Homo sapiens: one gene and its partners. The protein of the gene in region 4 interacts with the protein of the main gene of each other region in a biochemical or structural test. Each region holds a gene or a part of one and is shown on either strand. Other genes may lie near its edges.

The links.
Region 1: the proteins of NCBP2L (region 4) and APBA1 interact in a test that uses a peptide from one of them, tested with the Homo sapiens proteins (one large-scale study listed by IntAct).
Region 2: the proteins of NCBP2L (region 4) and LIN7A interact in a test that uses a peptide from one of them, tested with the Homo sapiens proteins (one large-scale study listed by IntAct).
Region 3: the proteins of NCBP2L (region 4) and CARD11 interact in a test that uses a peptide from one of them, tested with the Homo sapiens proteins (one large-scale study listed by IntAct).

What each region holds. Positions count from the first base shown.
Region 1 is NC_000009.12:69,448,744-69,452,678, reverse strand, and holds part of APBA1 (amyloid-beta A4 precursor protein-binding family A member 1), read left to right. Parts: intron 1-377; coding exon 378-557; intron 558-2,882; coding exon 2,883-3,095; intron 3,096-3,935. UniProt on the Homo sapiens protein: Putative function in synaptic vesicle exocytosis by binding to Munc18-1, an essential component of the synaptic vesicle exocytotic machinery. May modulate processing of the amyloid-beta precursor protein (APP) and hence formation of APP-beta.
Region 2 is NC_000012.12:80,791,892-80,795,241, reverse strand, and holds the end of LIN7A (protein lin-7 homolog A), read left to right. Parts: 3' UTR 1-2,722; downstream 2,723-3,350. UniProt on the Homo sapiens protein: Plays a role in establishing and maintaining the asymmetric distribution of channels and receptors at the plasma membrane of polarized cells.
Region 3 is NC_000007.14:2,907,740-2,911,674, reverse strand, and holds part of CARD11 (caspase recruitment domain-containing protein 11), read left to right. Parts: intron 1-1,509; coding exon 1,510-1,625; intron 1,626-3,935. UniProt on the Homo sapiens protein: Adapter protein that plays a key role in adaptive immune response by transducing the activation of NF-kappa-B downstream of T-cell receptor (TCR) and B-cell receptor (BCR) engagement.
Region 4 is NC_000023.11:107,786,801-107,792,224, reverse strand, and holds part of NCBP2L (nuclear cap-binding protein subunit 2-like), read right to left. Parts: intron 1-5,424.

The sequences.
Region 1 (3,935 bases), on a different chromosome or scaffold from region 4:
TCAGGTAACTGTAAACAAGTATTGCATGCACATGAATGTCCAGAGGGATCTGTGAAGATGGTGCAGGGTATAGAATGACTCATCACTGTATCGAGCTGTTTTTTGCATGGCAGGATATTCAGCATCTCTGACTCCTGTCTGCTGAATGCCGGTAGCTCCCTTATGATCATTGTCATAATCAAAAACATCCCCAGTCTTTCTGAAAATTGCCCCTGGTGGGCACTGGTAGCCCCACGTAGAACCACTGGCCCAGCAGGCGTGATGTCTAGGGTTTCCTCAGACTCCAGGAGGGCCATTGTTCAGGTGGGAAGTGCGCCAGGCCGCTCACCAGGTGCACTGCCCTGCTGACCATCTTTCCTCTCTGGCTGCTGTTCCAGGCTCAGCTGATTGCACAGTCCATCGGACAGGCATTTAGCGTGGCATACCAGGAATTCCTCAGGGCCAATGGGATTAACCCCGAAGATCTCAGCCAGAAGGAGTATAGTGACCTGCTCAATACCCAGGACATGTACAACGATGACCTGATCCACTTCTCCAAGTCGGAAAACTGTAAAGATGTGGGTACTTACCTGAAGCTGTTCTCCAGGCTGGGTCAGCTGGGCAGGGGCTTGGAAAGTGGGGCACCCTGCCGCGGAAGTGAAGGGAGATCAATGGTGAGGAGTGCCGTATTGGCAGGACATCATGAAGTCGTTCACCCCCATCTCTCGCTCCCTGCTGTGGGGCCCTGTCATGAAATGCTATTGTGGACAGGTGTAAACAGAGAGGCAGCACATCCTCTGCTCCTGGTCATCCTGAGCTAAGTTTTGGGTGGGTCCCAGAGGCAGATAGGACCTGAACTCTGCTTGTACAAACACTGCAATCTAGGTAAGGGCACTGAAAAAGTTAAATGATGGTGCCAGGTACAGGCACTAATCAAAACCAACTACACTTGGACAAACAGAGAAGATCTCAAGTTTCAGACAAGAGGTGCTGTGCTTCTCTGGGGATGGCCTGTGGCTTCAAACTGAGCTATTCAGGAATGCCTGTAGGAAGATGAGGCTATCCAAGCTGGTCTGGCGATCTGGGGATTGTAGGGGCAAGCCGAGGGTGGGGTCTATGGAATGGTTGGAAGCCTGGAGATCAGAAAGCTCCACATTTGTCTAGGGAATGAGGAAATACGGTTTGGCTAGAGCAGGAGGTAGGCACAGGAAAGGAGATAGATGGGCCTGAGATCTGGGTCAGAACTGGAGGGCCTGCAAGTCCAGCTGAGGGGTTTGGACTTGATCCCATAGGTAAAAAGAACTTTTAATGAGAAAGTGATCATTTGATCCACTGGGGTCTGTCAGGTGTCTTAGGTCAGATTCCCCAGAAGCAGAGCCTGAGGCAGGGATTCTTGTCACAGAGGTTTGTTGGGAGAGTGCCTCAGAACAGAAGGGATGTGGGAAGCTTGGTGGTGGGACACCAAGTAAGGGTGTGGTCCCTTGGACATGAGCTTCCTTCTGTCCAGAGGGAAGCTCCATGGCACATATTGCAGGACAGATTTGTCTCACCTTGGAGCGAGGGAGCTGGCAAGCCTTTGTACCCCATGCCGGTTATTGGCCAAGGCTGGACAGGGGGTATATGAATTTACTAGGGCTGTTGTCACAAAGTACCATGGACTGGGTGACTTCAACAACACAAACCTATTGTCTCACAGACCTTGTGGCCAGAAGTCCAAAAGCAAGGTGTTGTTAGCATTGGTTCCTTCTGAGAGCCGTGAGAGAAGAATCTGTTCCAAGCCTTTCTCTGGCTTGTAGATGGCTGTCTTCATGCTGTGTCTTCACATCAGCCTTTCTCCATGCATGTCCCTATGTCCAAATTTCCTCTTTTTTTTTTTGATACCCATGACAGACAACCATTCCTCTTCTTAAATAAGGACATGAGTAATATTGGATTAGAGTCCATATTAATCACCTCATTTAAAATTGGTTACCTCTGCTAAGACCTTATCTCCAAATAAAGTCACAATCTAAGTCAAAGGCACTGGGGGTTGGTAATTCAACATACAAATTTTGGGGGGACACAATTCAACCTTAACAGAATGTGTCTCCCTTTCAGCTAAGGACAGTTCTCCAGGGAAGGGGCTGACTGTAAGCTTCAGCAGCTGGGGGAAGCAGACACCAACCTGTGAAGGGGACTTTGTCAAGCCCCCCAAAAATACACATACACACTCTGTTGGGTGCTTCCAAGAGGTGTGGTACCTTTTAGTGGCATATCTGCAGGCCTCCCCAGAGTGCAAGTATCCAACATCAACCCCTGTCTTCTCTGCCCTGCCAGTGAAGGTTGTGAAAAGTCTGTGTATCCAGGATATGCACTTCCTGTGTGCACACCCAGCCTTTTGGTTGTGATAACTTCAGCATCACTTTTTCTTTTTTCTCAACTTTTTCCTTGCAGAGAAGTGTTTCTGTGTGTTTATTTATTTTTAACTCAAGAAAATTAAATGTCGGAGCGAATTGGGGAAGCACTGTGGGAGGGGGAACCTGCGCATGGAATTTGAAAAGCTATTTCTAGAAACCATAACACACCACCCACCCACAGAGCCTCATCCCCTGCCACTGAGGACAGGACTGAAGAAATTAAAAAAAAAAAAAAAAAAAAAAAAAACTGGTGGTCCTCATGGTTGTGTGCTGAGGCAAGTTTGCTTATGTGAAACGAGTGAATTACAAAAGAGTGTAGACCTGTGTGAATTCATTTCTTAAAAACTCCAAATATGCGGAATGCTGAGAAGACAGGAACTCATCTGGGTTGGTGTCCCCAGGGAAGTGTCTTTCTTTAGGCAAGACAGGAATGGGGGAGAGGCTTTCATTTCTACCTACCCCAGATGGTCACTGATGGAGGTTTTCTAAATGTTTTTCTCCTTCCAGGTTTTCATAGAGAAGCAGAAAGGAGAAATCCTAGGTGTGGTGATTGTGGAGTCTGGCTGGGGATCCATCCTCCCCACCGTGATCATTGCCAACATGATGCATGGTGGCCCTGCGGAGAAATCTGGGAAGCTGAATATCGGTGACCAGATCATGTCCATTAATGGCACCAGCCTGGTGGGCCTGCCTCTGTCCACCTGCCAGAGCATTATTAAGGTACCTGAATATGGGAAAAATCAGTTGATGTGGTAAACCTCAAGTGATGTGAAGTGTGACCCCCATCCAGTCATTAATGTATATGAACATATTCAAAGTGTCAGGCACCAAGGAAGACACAAACACAAAAGGCGTGGACTTGCACTCAGGAAGCTTACCATCAAGTTACTGTTTACAGATTCTTCCCTGAAATCAATTTAGATTAGGGGAAGTGTATTTGGTTCACATGACACTACTTTCTGATAGCAGCATGTCCATCACAGCATCACTAGTCAATCACAGCATTCTCCCACTAAGCCCAGACTCAGCCTCAACAGAAATGGCCTCAGCTTGGGAATCCAGACAGTCACTTATAGTCAGCCAGATACACTTGGCATGATTTACCATCCCTGTCAAAAATGTCAGAAATGCTTCAAATCTGAGAGTGCTTTTTCCTTCCCAGTGGCCCTGACTATGATGCAGGTGAGTTTGTCCTCCCTCAGACCCCGGGTAAAGCAACTCACATGTGCTCATTGCCAGAAGGAGGAGGAAACTCTCTTCCAGTCCATGGAAGCTTTTTCATACCTGAGCATACTTCCTGCTCAACCTGAACTGATGCTTATAAAGCTAAGAAGAGCTACTTAAAGGAAAATTAAATGTGAATACTTGAGAAGAAATGAGATTTTCTTTAGACATGAAGCATTCATGTGGAGTTTTTTGAGCACATTGGGACTTGCTGAATGCATGGCCAGTGTGACCAGGATGTTCCTCCTCCATGATGGCATCTGTAGACCCCAGTAGCTCTGCACCAAGTGCTGCGGTACTGTAGCTAGACTGAGATTCCACAGCGTTTTTTGGGGT
Region 2 (3,350 bases), on a different chromosome or scaffold from region 4:
AGACTTAAGCCACCTGTGGTTCTCTTAAGTTTCACTGAAGCCAGAAGAAGGAAATTACCACAACTTGTATTATACTAATTATCTTCATTATTAACGATCATATTAGAGCCACTGACATGTCCCAAATTATATTAAAATAAAAACCTGCATTGCTCTGACATGAAGCTCAATTCAATGTAATAAACAAATTAGGTATTAAACGTTATAATTTAAAAAACTTCTACGATATCACCAGAAATCCTGGTGAAATTTAATTTTTTCCCTTTTTTAGGTCAGTGGCCGGTGGGATAGATTTTTCTAAACTTTTTCCTGCTATGATTTTGAAGGCAAATACATAGAGCACAGTTCAGTAAAAGAGTTTCCAAGCCTTTTCACTGGAGCATTTACATTTTGATTCTGTTGTCATTTGAAATAGAACATCTGCAGGGAGATAATGAGCTTAAGTTACAATTGACTTTGGAAAGAATAACAGACTTTTGTGTTTCCTCAATCATGTAGTCAATAGGGAATTCTCCAGTTATGTGAACAATCACAGTCTTTTAAGACAATACTTAGATCTAAATGCAAAATCTAGCATGCAGAGGCTTTTTAAGGATTTTAGACTGTCTCCAAAGAACTTGGCTCGAGATGGATTACACAGATTTACAAATGCAGTTTTCAACTGTGACATCAAACTGATCTTATCTCATTTCATGTTACTCAACTGTGCCCGTAGGACCCCAAGAGGTGGAATATTTTGTCTACATTATTTTAAACATCTATAGATATGTGTGGATGTGTGAATAATGCCTAAATTTCTCATCTTTTAACTAGTTTGTTTTTATCATACAGACACAGCCTGTTCATAAGACCAGCTTTAGACAACTTAGAACTCAATGCTCTGAAGATTCAGGGAGGCCAACATAGAAAAAGATCTTCCAAAATATGGGGTGGTCCAACCCATCTCATCCCTCTCTAGCTGGAAAACTATAGAGAAAGGGCTGTGACTGCCTTGACCACTGCCTGGCACAATGTAGGCACTCGGTATTTGTTGGATGAATAAGTGGCTGAATCAGTGAATAGACAAAAAACATGGATTTTGCCTTCTGAAAATCTCACAAATTTTACCAGCTTATATTATACTGATTGTCACTATGATTTCTAAGTTTCATGGTTAGAACCATATTTTGAGTCTATATAAAAACTTTTTAGATGTATGAATTTGAAATTTCATTAATTACTTTAAAGGCTTCAAAGATTTGAGGACATTTGAACAGTGGATAAGGAACAATGTTTGGGGATACAGAGTTTTTATGCTGAGTTGAACTCAACCTTTCTAGTTCTTTATACAAGCTTCCTGAATTATCTGGCAGGAATGATTCAAACATAAAACCCCATTTTTAAATTTTATAAAAGATATTTTCATTTTTATATAAAAAGATCATCAGGCATATTATCCCCTTTGATATTTATTAACAACCATTCTCTAAGAAATTCATAATAATTGGAGACACCATCCCTAAATCTCTTCCTATTTTCAAAAGATCATTTATCCTTTCATATTTGATTCCTGGAATACACTAAGCTGAAGTTTAATCACATACTTACTCAGATGTTTCCATGTGTTTATTCATTTAACAAATACTTATTGTGTACCTAGTGCATGCTAGGTTCTGGAAATGCAACAGCAAACAAGACAGACACAATCCCTCTTGGAGGTTACTGTGAGAAACTCTCCAACATTTACTCTAGCAATAACTAGAGAGTTTACTGTCCATTGGGTCCTCTTCACACCTGATAGAAAAAATAAAATTCCTCACCCCATGGAAGTCATGAAATACTCCCTGCACAGATTTGTGTGAGCTTGCTTTTCTAAAACCACTGCTCAAAAATGCTGCTTAGTTTATCTATAAACCACGGTTATACCCCAGTGAGGTAGGTAAGTAATTTATTCATAACTAACATTTATGCAGCTCTATTTTCTAGCCACTGTGCTGAGTGCTTTTATGGACTATCTCACCAAATCCCTTCAACAACTCTATTCAGTAGGTTCCATTTTATAGATACAAAAACTGAAGCACAGATATATTATGTGACTTGTCCAAGGTCACACAGCTAGCAGGTGGAACTGGGATTTGAACCCATGCAATCTGACACAAGAGTTCATGTGTCTAATCATTATCTGTGGTTTGGGGGACACCATTACATTAAAATGAATGAGTCACTAAGTGAGTCACTGTATATAAAATACTTGGAAATTGTAAAGTAATATACAAAAGATATTAACAAAGTATTATTCATGGTAAACAAATCACATCAGTAGCAAACACAGGGTGGGAACTCAATCTTATGTTATAGCTTACTCTTAAGAAGAATATGTGAAGCCAGGAACATGGTTAAAGGTACAGACCAGAAAATTTCTGACATGTGATAAATATTTCAGTGACTTTTCAGATTTATTTCTTGTTAGCCGCTGTGTCTATTTGGTGCTACAAAAACTGAAAGAAACAAAATCCCTGATGTAAGGGCTTATAATAAATACACAGTTTGGAGATGAACTAAGGATATTTTACATTTACGGGAAAGGATTGGACAATAGTATCATTTTCTCACCATTTGCATGTACATCATGTCTTTCCAATTGTTTTCATTATTTTTCTGAAAGAGCTGCAAAATTGTGCAGTGGTTCAACCTGACCAAAGTGGTATTATGCTGCTGGGAAGTAAAAGTATTAGACACCAAACTGGAAGTATTGTTTTCATTATCAAATGACTTTAAGTTCTTTTAAAGCATGGATGTAAAAGAATTTTTAGATACTGAAGACACCTCAATATTGGGATGCTAAGTTTCTTGGGTTTCTCCATTCTTGACCACACAGTGGTGTCATTCTATTGAGGGCTTAGATTCTGTAAAGGAAAAGACAAATTTTTTTTTTTTTTGCTTTCTAGTCTCAAACTCAACATAGAACACTTCTGTGACCAAATGTAAAGGTTTCCCCACCCCCCCACCCCATCAATTTTCCAAGCAGGTACCAAATGGATGTCCTATAATTCAATTCAATTCTGAAACTATTTACTTGAAGATGGTGTAGATTCCACAGATTGAGGGCTCAGTCTCACAACACTTAGCCTACTTAAGATGCCAATTGCAAGTAGTAGGTTGTCACCTGTCCTTTGACTGGCTGGAGACTGAGATTCTCACAAGCCCTTCTTTGGGTTCAGCTGGGACAGCTCACAAAACTGAGGAAAACACCTACTTAGTTTACTGGTTTATTATAAAATGAATCATAAAGGGAATTTTTACCCAGTTCAAATTATATGGTCATGTAGTTACCAGAAACCTATATTCAAGAATGTTTATCAGTGTCCTTT
Region 3 (3,935 bases), on a different chromosome or scaffold from region 4:
GGATGAAGAAAAGGCTCTCTGTCCGCGTCACTGGAGGGCTCCCCCAGCTGCCGGGGGCTGGCTCCGTGGTGGACGCTGACCTTGGGGATGGCAAGAGCAGATGGTGGTGTTTTTGTTTTTTTTAAGTCTGGGCCACAGCAGTTTAGGAAATTCTGATAGCTGGCGTGGATAGAAAGTGAGCAGACAGGGTTGGAGCTGAGATTGTTTTTAGCTGAAAAGAAGAAGCCTTCCAGCAGATCTGTGCTGTAGAAATGTGGGCCATGGTCCTATTGGTGGGGAATGGGGAGCAGTGGCCCCGCAGGAGGCCCAAGGAGACCCTGGGCGAGGGGGGTCATTCCCACCTCCAGACACGAGTGCTAGACTGCGTTCAGTTTGTGAAATTCACTGAGCTGCATGCTTAGAATGCTGTGTTTATGTTCTATTCCAATGCAAAGTTTGATGTTTTATTTATTTAGAGACTGGGGCTCGCTCTGTTGCCCAGCCTGGAGTGCAGGGCATGATCCCGGCTTACTGCAGCCGCGACTTCTAGGCTGAAGCAACTCTCCCGCCTCTGCCTCCCGAGTAGCTGGGACTACAGTTACTCACCACCATGCCCAGCTAATGATTTTCTAATTTTTTTAGAGATAGGGTCTTGTTATATTGCCCAGGCTGGTCTCGAACTCCTAGCGTCAAGCAATCCTCCCACCTCCCAAAGTGCTGGGATTGCTGGCATGAGCCACCATGCCAACATTTGGTGGAATTTTTTTTTAAGTGATGCCTTCAGCAAAGCAGAAATTGCCCTTTCTCAAAATGATGAGCTCATGGTTGAGAACCTTGCAGATACTCCTGGGACCTGCCAGCCTCGCCGCCTCACCCTTCATGTGTTCCCTACCCTCTTACTTGAAGGCTGGCTAGGGTAGCAGGTGTTTTGGGGTGTGTGTGTGTGTGCGTGTGTGTGTATGTGTGTGTGTGTGTGTTTGAGACAGTGTCTCACTCTGTCACCCAGGCTGGAATGCAGTGGCACCATCTCGGCTCACCGCAACCTCCACCTCCCGGGTTCAAGTGATTCTCCTGCCTCAGCCTCCCGAGTAGCTGGGATTACAGGCGTGGGCCACCGCACCCAGCTAATTTTTATACTTTTAGTAGAGACAGGGTTTTGCCGTGTTGGCCAGGCTGGTCTCGAACTCCTGACCCCAAGTGATCGGCCCGCCTGGGCCTCCCAAAGTGCTGGGATTACAGGCGTGAGCCACCACGCCCGGCTGGTAGCAGGTGTTTCATTCAAACTCATTCACGCCACCTGGTTCACCCCGTCCGGGGCCTCATCTCTGCCCATGAACATCACTGTGGTCAGCAGAGTCCTGGAGTGTCCAGACTCATGTGGGGGTCTCATCTCCTGGATCAGCGGCAGGTGGCTTTCAGGGCTCCCGCCCCGCTATAGACCCCAACCCTGCATCCAGGCCCCGCTGCAGGCACCTTCACAGGAGCGGGAGGTGGGTGGGCTGCTGCTGACCAAAGCCGCTGTGCCCGCAGAACAAGCACTGCCTGCTGGAGGCTGGGATCGGCTGCACAAGAGACTTGATCAAGTCCAACATCTACCCCATCGTGCTCTTCATCCGGGTGTGTGAGAAGAACATCAAGAGGTTCAGGTAGGGCTCCCAGACCCCTAAGGGCTGTCCCCTCCTGTCCCTAGCACCCCACCAAGCCTCCATGGATCGCAGGAGGCCTGTGTGCCCCCACCTCATGCACCCCTTTTGTAAACCCTCACCAAGTACGGGACTGACCTTGCAGAGCTGATGCCAAGGACAGCGGCCGAGATGGTGACTCACATATGGGGCGCATCCCAGGGGACAAGAGCTGGGAGGGACGGGGCGGAGTGCCCATCACCCAGGGTGGTCCGGGAAGGCCTGGGGTATCCATCAGCGAGACCCATGGCAGTGAGGGGGGCCTAGGAGATGAGAAAGAAGACGCAATCTGGGCAGCAGGGGAACAGCTGGTGCTCAGACCCTGAGACAGATGTTTGGGCGGAATGGTGAGGGACGGAGGGGTGAGGGGCGGAGTGGTGAGGGACAGAGGGGTGAGAGGCTGAGGAGTGAGGGGCGGAGGGTGAGGGACGGAGAGTGAGAGGCTGAGGGGTGAGGGGCGCAGGGGTGAGAGGCAGAGGGTGAGGGGTGGAGGGGTGAGGGGCGCAGGGGTGAGGGGCGGAGGGGTGAGAGGCTGGGGAGTGAGGGGCAGAGGGTGAGGGACAGAGGGGTGAGAGGCTGAGGAGTGAGGGGCGGAGGGTGAGGGACGGAGAGTGAGAGGCTGAGGGGTGAGGGGCAGCGGGTCCAGGCCATGCAGGGCCACGGGAGGCTGCGACATCTTGTTCTGGGTGCATCTGGAGGCCACTGAAGGTGGCATGGTCCACTTTAGGGTATAAACGCACCTCTCACCTCTGGACACGGGCAGGGTGGCGGTGTGGGCCGGGCTTCTGTCTGAGAGGCGATGAGAGGCAGTCTGACTCCGAATCCGTGTTCAGGGTCGAGCCTGCAGGATTCGGGAAAGGGTTCACTCTGGGGTTCCAGAGAACCAGAGGCTGGGCGCGGTGGCTCACGCCTATAATCCCCACACTTTGGGAGGCCAAGGTGGGCACATCAGCTGAAGTTGGTAGTTTGAGACCAGCTTGGCCAACATGGTGAAACCCCATCTCTACTAAAAATACAAAAAAAATTAGCTGGGCGTGGTGGCGGGCACCTGTAGTCCCAGCTACTCAGGAGGCAGAAGCAGGAGAATCGCTTGAACGTGGGAGGGGCAGGTTGCAGTGAGCTGAGATCGAGCCACTGCACTCCAGCCTGGGCGACAGAGTGAGACTCCATCTCAGAAAAAAAAAAACAAAAAAAAAAAAACGAAAGGACGGCGCTGAGGTTTGGGGCCTGGGTGATGAGGACAGACTGGCCCTTAAGTGGCTTCATCTCGGATCCCCGCCCCTCCTCGCACGCACCTGCAAAATAAATGTCCTGCCACCATTTTGCAGAGGGAATCACAGACTGAGAGTTTAGGCCCATTCATTCCTTTTCACCAGATACTCACTGAGCCATTGTGAAGGGTTAGGCTCTGGGGAACGCAGCAGTGAGCAAAAGAGACGGGCATCCCCCTCGATACCTCACACCCGTTAGGCTGGCCAGGACCAAAAGGACAGAAACTGACAAGTGTTGACGAGGAGGGTAGACGTCGGAACCCGGTGCACAGCTGCTGGAAATGCAAAAGAGAGCGGCCACTGTGGAGGACAGCATGGCGATGCCCCCAAAAATTAAAAATAGAATACTATATAATCCAGCAACCCCACCTGCGGGCATATCCCCAAGAGAATTGAGAGCAGGGTCTGTAAGAGACATATACACGCCCGTGTTCACAGCAGCGTTACTCCCAATAGCCAAAACGTAGACGTCACCTAAGGGTCGGTCTGTGGGGAGTGAATACACACAATAGGGCCCATCCATACAGGCTAGGAAGGTGGCAAGAGCTGAAAACCTTGCAAACTGTTAACAAAAAAAGAGTTGAAACAAAGAAACAATAATACATTTAATGCATGAGAAATACTAGCATGGTACATACCCCCTTCCCTGATCTGTCCTGCCTGGGAATGTGTTTATGGTGCAGTGTGTATCACAACAAAAATACTGTATGGAGTATTTTTTTTTTTTTGAGACGGAGTCTCACTCTGTCACCCAGGCTGAAGTGCAGTGGCACGATCTCGGCTCACTGCAGCCTCCACCTCCCAGGTTCAAGAGATTCTCCTACCTCAGCCTCCCGAGTAGCTGGGATTACAGGTGCCCACCACCATGCCTGGCTAATTTGTGTATTTTTACTAGAGATTGGGTTTCACCATGTTGGCCAGCTGGTCTCGAACTCCTGACTTCAAGTGATCCTCCTGCCTCGGCCTCCCAGAGTGCTGGGATTACAGGCCTGAGCCACCGCAC
Region 4 (5,424 bases):
CTGGATGCTTCAGGCATTTGTTGAGATGAGCCTATAACTAGTTGAACAACTATAGCCAAAGAAGCGAACACATGGTTTGGTGTCAGACTGGAAGGAAGGTTCTAGCAGAGAGCCAAAGGCTCTGTTATTGGCCATGTCTTGTTTGGCTCATTTATAACTTGGCTCACTACAAACAAGAGCTTTTAAAATGGTCAGAGCAGTCCAAAGACAATGGGCTGCCTTGAGCTAGGCACCCAGTAGTGAAGCAGTGGAGATGCCCCTTTGAATCAATGTAGTGTTATGACTCAAGCATGAATTTTGAAGTCAAAAGACCTTGGTTCAAATCTCAACTTCACCATTTACTAGCAATATGACCCTAGGCAGGGCACTTAACAATACTGATTTCAATCTTCTCATCTGTAAACTGGAGAGCAAAATACCTATCTTGCAACAAATACTGTGACAATGTCATATGTAAAAACACCCAGCACAGTGTTTGACACACTGTAGGTGTTCAATAAGCAATAGGTATTGTATCAATATTCTGATCAAGTGATTCAAAATAGGATATACAAATACATATCAAATCTACACATAACACAAAAATAAGAGGGACTTTGAAATGATCTGGGCAGTCTTACATGATGCTGAGCCCAAATTGACAAGATAATTGATGGATAGTACTTAAGAATAAATGTAAGGCCGGGTGCAGTGGCTCACGCCTGCAATCCCAGCACTTTGGGAGGCCGAGGCAGGTGGATTGCTTAATCCCAGGAGTTCAAGACCAGCCTGGGCAACATGGTGAAACCTCATCTTTACAACAGATTACAAATATTAGCATGGCGTGGTGGCATGTGACTATAGTCCCAGCTACTTGGAAGGCTGAGGTAGGAGGATCTAGAGCCCAGGAGATCGAGGCTGAAGTGAGCCATAATTGTGCCATTGCACTCCAGCCTGGGTGACAGAGTGAGACCCTGTCTCAGAAAAAAAAAAAAGTATAAATGTAAAGTATTACTTTCAAGCTCAACACGTGGCAAAAGGACAGATTGATGGATATTGGGAAAGATAACTGGCATGGGAGCTTTGTTTTATAATGTGGGGCATCCTCTACTTTATTCTTCTCTTCACTTGTTTCTCCATTCATTCAATCAACATTTATAGAGCACTATGTTAAATTCTGGGGAAACAATAAAAAGTAAGATGCAGCCCTTTCCCTCAGGTAGCTCACAATCTGGGGAGATGGACAACTTAACATACAAATTGCAATGCAATGTAATTATTCTAATCACAGGAGCACACAGTAGGCCCAGAGGTAGCACAAAGAAGGGAGTACAAAACTACAGAGGAGGATGAGGAGGGGAAAACAACTTTCTAAAGGACCTGATTCCTGAGCTTTTTTAACAAAAAATTTACGTAGTATTTACTTTTTTGAATAGTGAATTCAGATTTGTGTTACAAAATGCAGAATGTACAAATAGGTGGAAAAAGGAAGTCTTCTTCCCACTCCTGTGCCCCAGCCACCCAATCATTGTCACTAGTTTCTTGTGTATCTACCCAGACATAGTCTGAGTCCAATTTTGAAAGCTGAATAAAGATTTGACTGGAAGACCAAGGGGTCATTCTAGGCAGAGAGAACAGTGTGTATGAAGGCATGAAGGCGTGATGGGGGGTGTTCAGTCTGACGTTATTTGGGCAAAGAAAATAAGGAAAAGATGATAGGAGATAAGATTGGAAGGGTAGGCAAGGCCAGATTGTGAGGGGCCTTGTAAGCCTTGTGGAGCAGCTTGGACTGTACCAGTAAGCAGTGGGAACCATGATAGGGCTTCAAGCAGAGGAGTGATGTGATCTGATTTGCATTAGAGAAAATGCATTCTATCACAGTGTGAAGGATAGACTAAGGGGGAGCAGGCCAAGAGGCAGGAAGACCAGTTACGGAGCTATTTGAATGGTTAAAAAACAAAAAGATTATGGAAAGCCTGGACTAATAATATGCTGTAGTAACATAAAGGAAACACATCTCAGATAGATACTTAGAAGACAGACTGAACAGGTCTTGGTGACTGGTTGAATGAGAAATTCAGGATGACTACCGAGTTTCAGCACTGTGTAGATAGAGGTCAACTGTGTAGATAGAGGTCTGAGTCACCAAAATGGTGTCAGTTGGGCAGACAGAGGAGGAAGGGCAGATTGGAATAAAAAAGATGAATTTGGAACATACTGAGTTTGGTCTTGAGGTACCTGTAGGATGTGCCATATTACACGTGTCAAGTATTAACTAGTATATGGGTTTGGAGCTCTCAAGAGAGGTCTGTGTCTGGGACCACAGACACAGATTTGGGGCTCAATAGGATGGTAGATAAAACCATGGGTATGGATGAGATGATCTAGGGGAAAGGTGAGGAATGAAAAAACCTGGGAAAGACTGGCATTTAAGGGGTGGCAGACGAAAAGTCCACAAAACAGCATAAGAAGGAGTAATCAGAGAGGAATGAGGACAGTCAGAAGATGTGCAACATCACCAAAGCCAAGGAGTAGGTCATGAGAGTCATGAGGACAGAAGTAGGGTGAGAGCAATCAATTATGTTAAATACATCAGAGAGAGGTCCAGTAAAATAAAGACTTAACATTGTTCATTAGATTTGGCAATTAGGATGTCATTGGTTTACTTAAAAGAGAAATAACAGTGGTGTTCTGGGAACAGAAAAGCCATAGTGGGAGCTGAGTTTTTAACAGGAGGTGAGGAAATGGAGAGTGTCTACACTTTAGAAAAGATTCCATAACAATAAAAGAAGAGAAATAGGGCAAATGCCAGTTGGGGATAGAGGCGAAGGAAAATTTGTTTGTTTCTTTTTTTAGAGTGAAAGTTGATCATGCCTGAAGGTTGATGGGAAGCAGCCAGTAAGTAGAGAAGGAGTTGTTGAAGACACAGATGAGAGGAGGGATAACTGATGAAGTAAGTCCTCATGGAGGTGAGAAAGAATGGGCTCCAAAGCATACGTAGAGAAATTAGCCTTGAACTGGAGAAGCTATGTGTATTTCTGCAAGCCCAAAAAAAAAAAAAAAAAAAAAAAGAGGTTAGGACATGTAGGGACACAACTATGTGGCAGGGTGGGGTTAGGACAGGAAAATGAGTGTTAGCATCCAACGACCTAGATTTTCATAATGGAATAAGAGGTGAGATCATCTGCTGAGAATAAAGTGGATCATTGAAAATAGTTGGTGAAGCAGAGTGGAGGTAAAATGATTGAAAGGATGAAGCTTATAAATGGGTCATCTATGAGGACATTAAGATCACTCAGGATGGTGGCTAGAGTTGGGGTGGAAAGGAAGACTATCAGTGAGGAGGTGAAGTCCTCAATAGGTGAGAGAACTAAAGTACAGCAGATGATAGTAGGAAGGATTGGAAGAGGGTGGCTGTACCATCTCCAGGCCCCATGGGGTAAGAAAGAACAGAGAACCTCTACCACTGAAAACAGAGGTTTCTAGTTGATGTTAGGTACCTGACCCAAAGTAGGTACTCACTAGATGTGAAGAAGTGAGTTACTCTTTTTTAAGCTGGTATGATCATGAAATTGCATCAGACCATCACAAGGAGTGGCAGTCCCAATGTGCTCCATGCTGGTCAAACTACACAGCGAGCACTACGTTCCATTTCGAGGTACTGTATTTTAAAGTGAACATTTACAAATCATAGTGCATCTGATGTTTATTGAATGAATGAAGGGTCAAGAAGTAACTGAGGACTGATTAGAAATTGGGGATGTTTAGTCTAGCAAAGAGATGGTTAAAGGAGGATATGACAAATGTCTTGAAATATTGAAAGTGCTATTTCTGCTCCATATGATAAAAGTAAGATTAATGGATAGAAGTTAAAAACAGAAGATTACAATTCTTTTTTAGCAGAGTTTTTAATTCATCCAGTGATAGAATGTGAACTTACCTAATCTATTCATGTGGAGGCTGCAATGAACACCTACCTGCTAAAGGTGTTAGAAGGGTCACCCCCAAGGTTAACATCCCCAAAGGTTAAAGAGAAGATAGAAAAGCAATCCAGTTGCCAGGGACCACAGATCACCAAGTTGATCTGTAAACACTGTGAGAGAATATTTCCTACCTAAAAAGTAGAGCTTGGTTGGAGTGGAAAGCTTTCCTTGACTCTTGCTACTGGAGAAAATTAGTCAGAGAGTCTAAAAATAGAAGAAAAACATGAAGAATGGCTCAAAATGATCAGTCAAAATCCTAAGAGGACGGAGGAGAGGAGGTGGCAAAATAAAGTAAATTATCTTCCAGGAAACAAACTTCACTGGGCTTTTGGAGTTGGCAGGACTCTGCAAAGAATCTTTTCAATGGTTGCCTTAAACTAATGCTGGGATTGTTTCAACTATGTGAAAGGAACAAGGATCTGGACTCTTTAAAAAGCCAGGCTACTTTCTGCTCCAGATGAAGGCAGTAGCTCTAAGAAAGGAAATTAGAAAGCGCTGGGACAGTAGTGTTACTACATGCCTTACCTTTATAAGACTGTTCCTAATGGGTGAGAGAGCTGAGAGCCATTGTTGAGGACTGGAACCCTGTGGCCAAATATCTACTTTGTGCCAAGAGAAATTCATGTCTGATTGAGACTGCCTAGTGCTCAGAGTGACAGAAGATGTTCATATGTATTTAACACCTGTATTTAAATGAGTAGTTAAACATAAACATGTCATGGAGGTGAGAGATGAGAAATTACTTAATGGGTACAATCTACACTGTTTGGGTGACGGTTACATTAAAAGCCCAGACTTCACCACTCTGCAATATATCCATGTACCAAAACTGCACTCGAACCCCTTAAATTTGTACAAATAAATAAATAAACAAACATAAGCTGAAACAGACTGGCAGAACTAAAGCGGAGACAATGGCCTGAGACAGGCTACAGGAGAAAAGAGGATAATAAGTGACTGTTTAGTGTAGAAGCTGATCTGGATTAAATTAGGAAGCAGGTGTTAATGGATGCTTGAATTTTTTTGTTTATCATTTGCACTATATGGCCTTACTGTTCAAAGTGTTGTCCGTGGGCCAGCAGGAGCAGCACACCTGGGAGCTTTTTAGAAATGCAGGATCTCAGGCCCCTCCCTAGATCTGCTGAATAATAATCTTCATTTTAACGAGTTTCAGGTGATTTGAGTGCACAGTACAGTTTGAGAAGCACTGACGTATGTGGTTTCTTAGTTGAACTTTTGCCTAACAAAATTCTCTGTCCCTTCCTCCTTCCTTCTCTCCCTTGTACCACCTCTCCTAGTTTCCCAATCTTAGTTTCCTTGTGATCTGGCACATAACTCTAATCATGGCTGATAGCCCCAAAAGTAGTGTTCCCAATATATCCAGATAAAGAAAAGAAAAGAAAAGAGTGGTCAGATATATATTGTAAAGCACAGGTTTGGGCAGTAGGAAACCATTGACTTG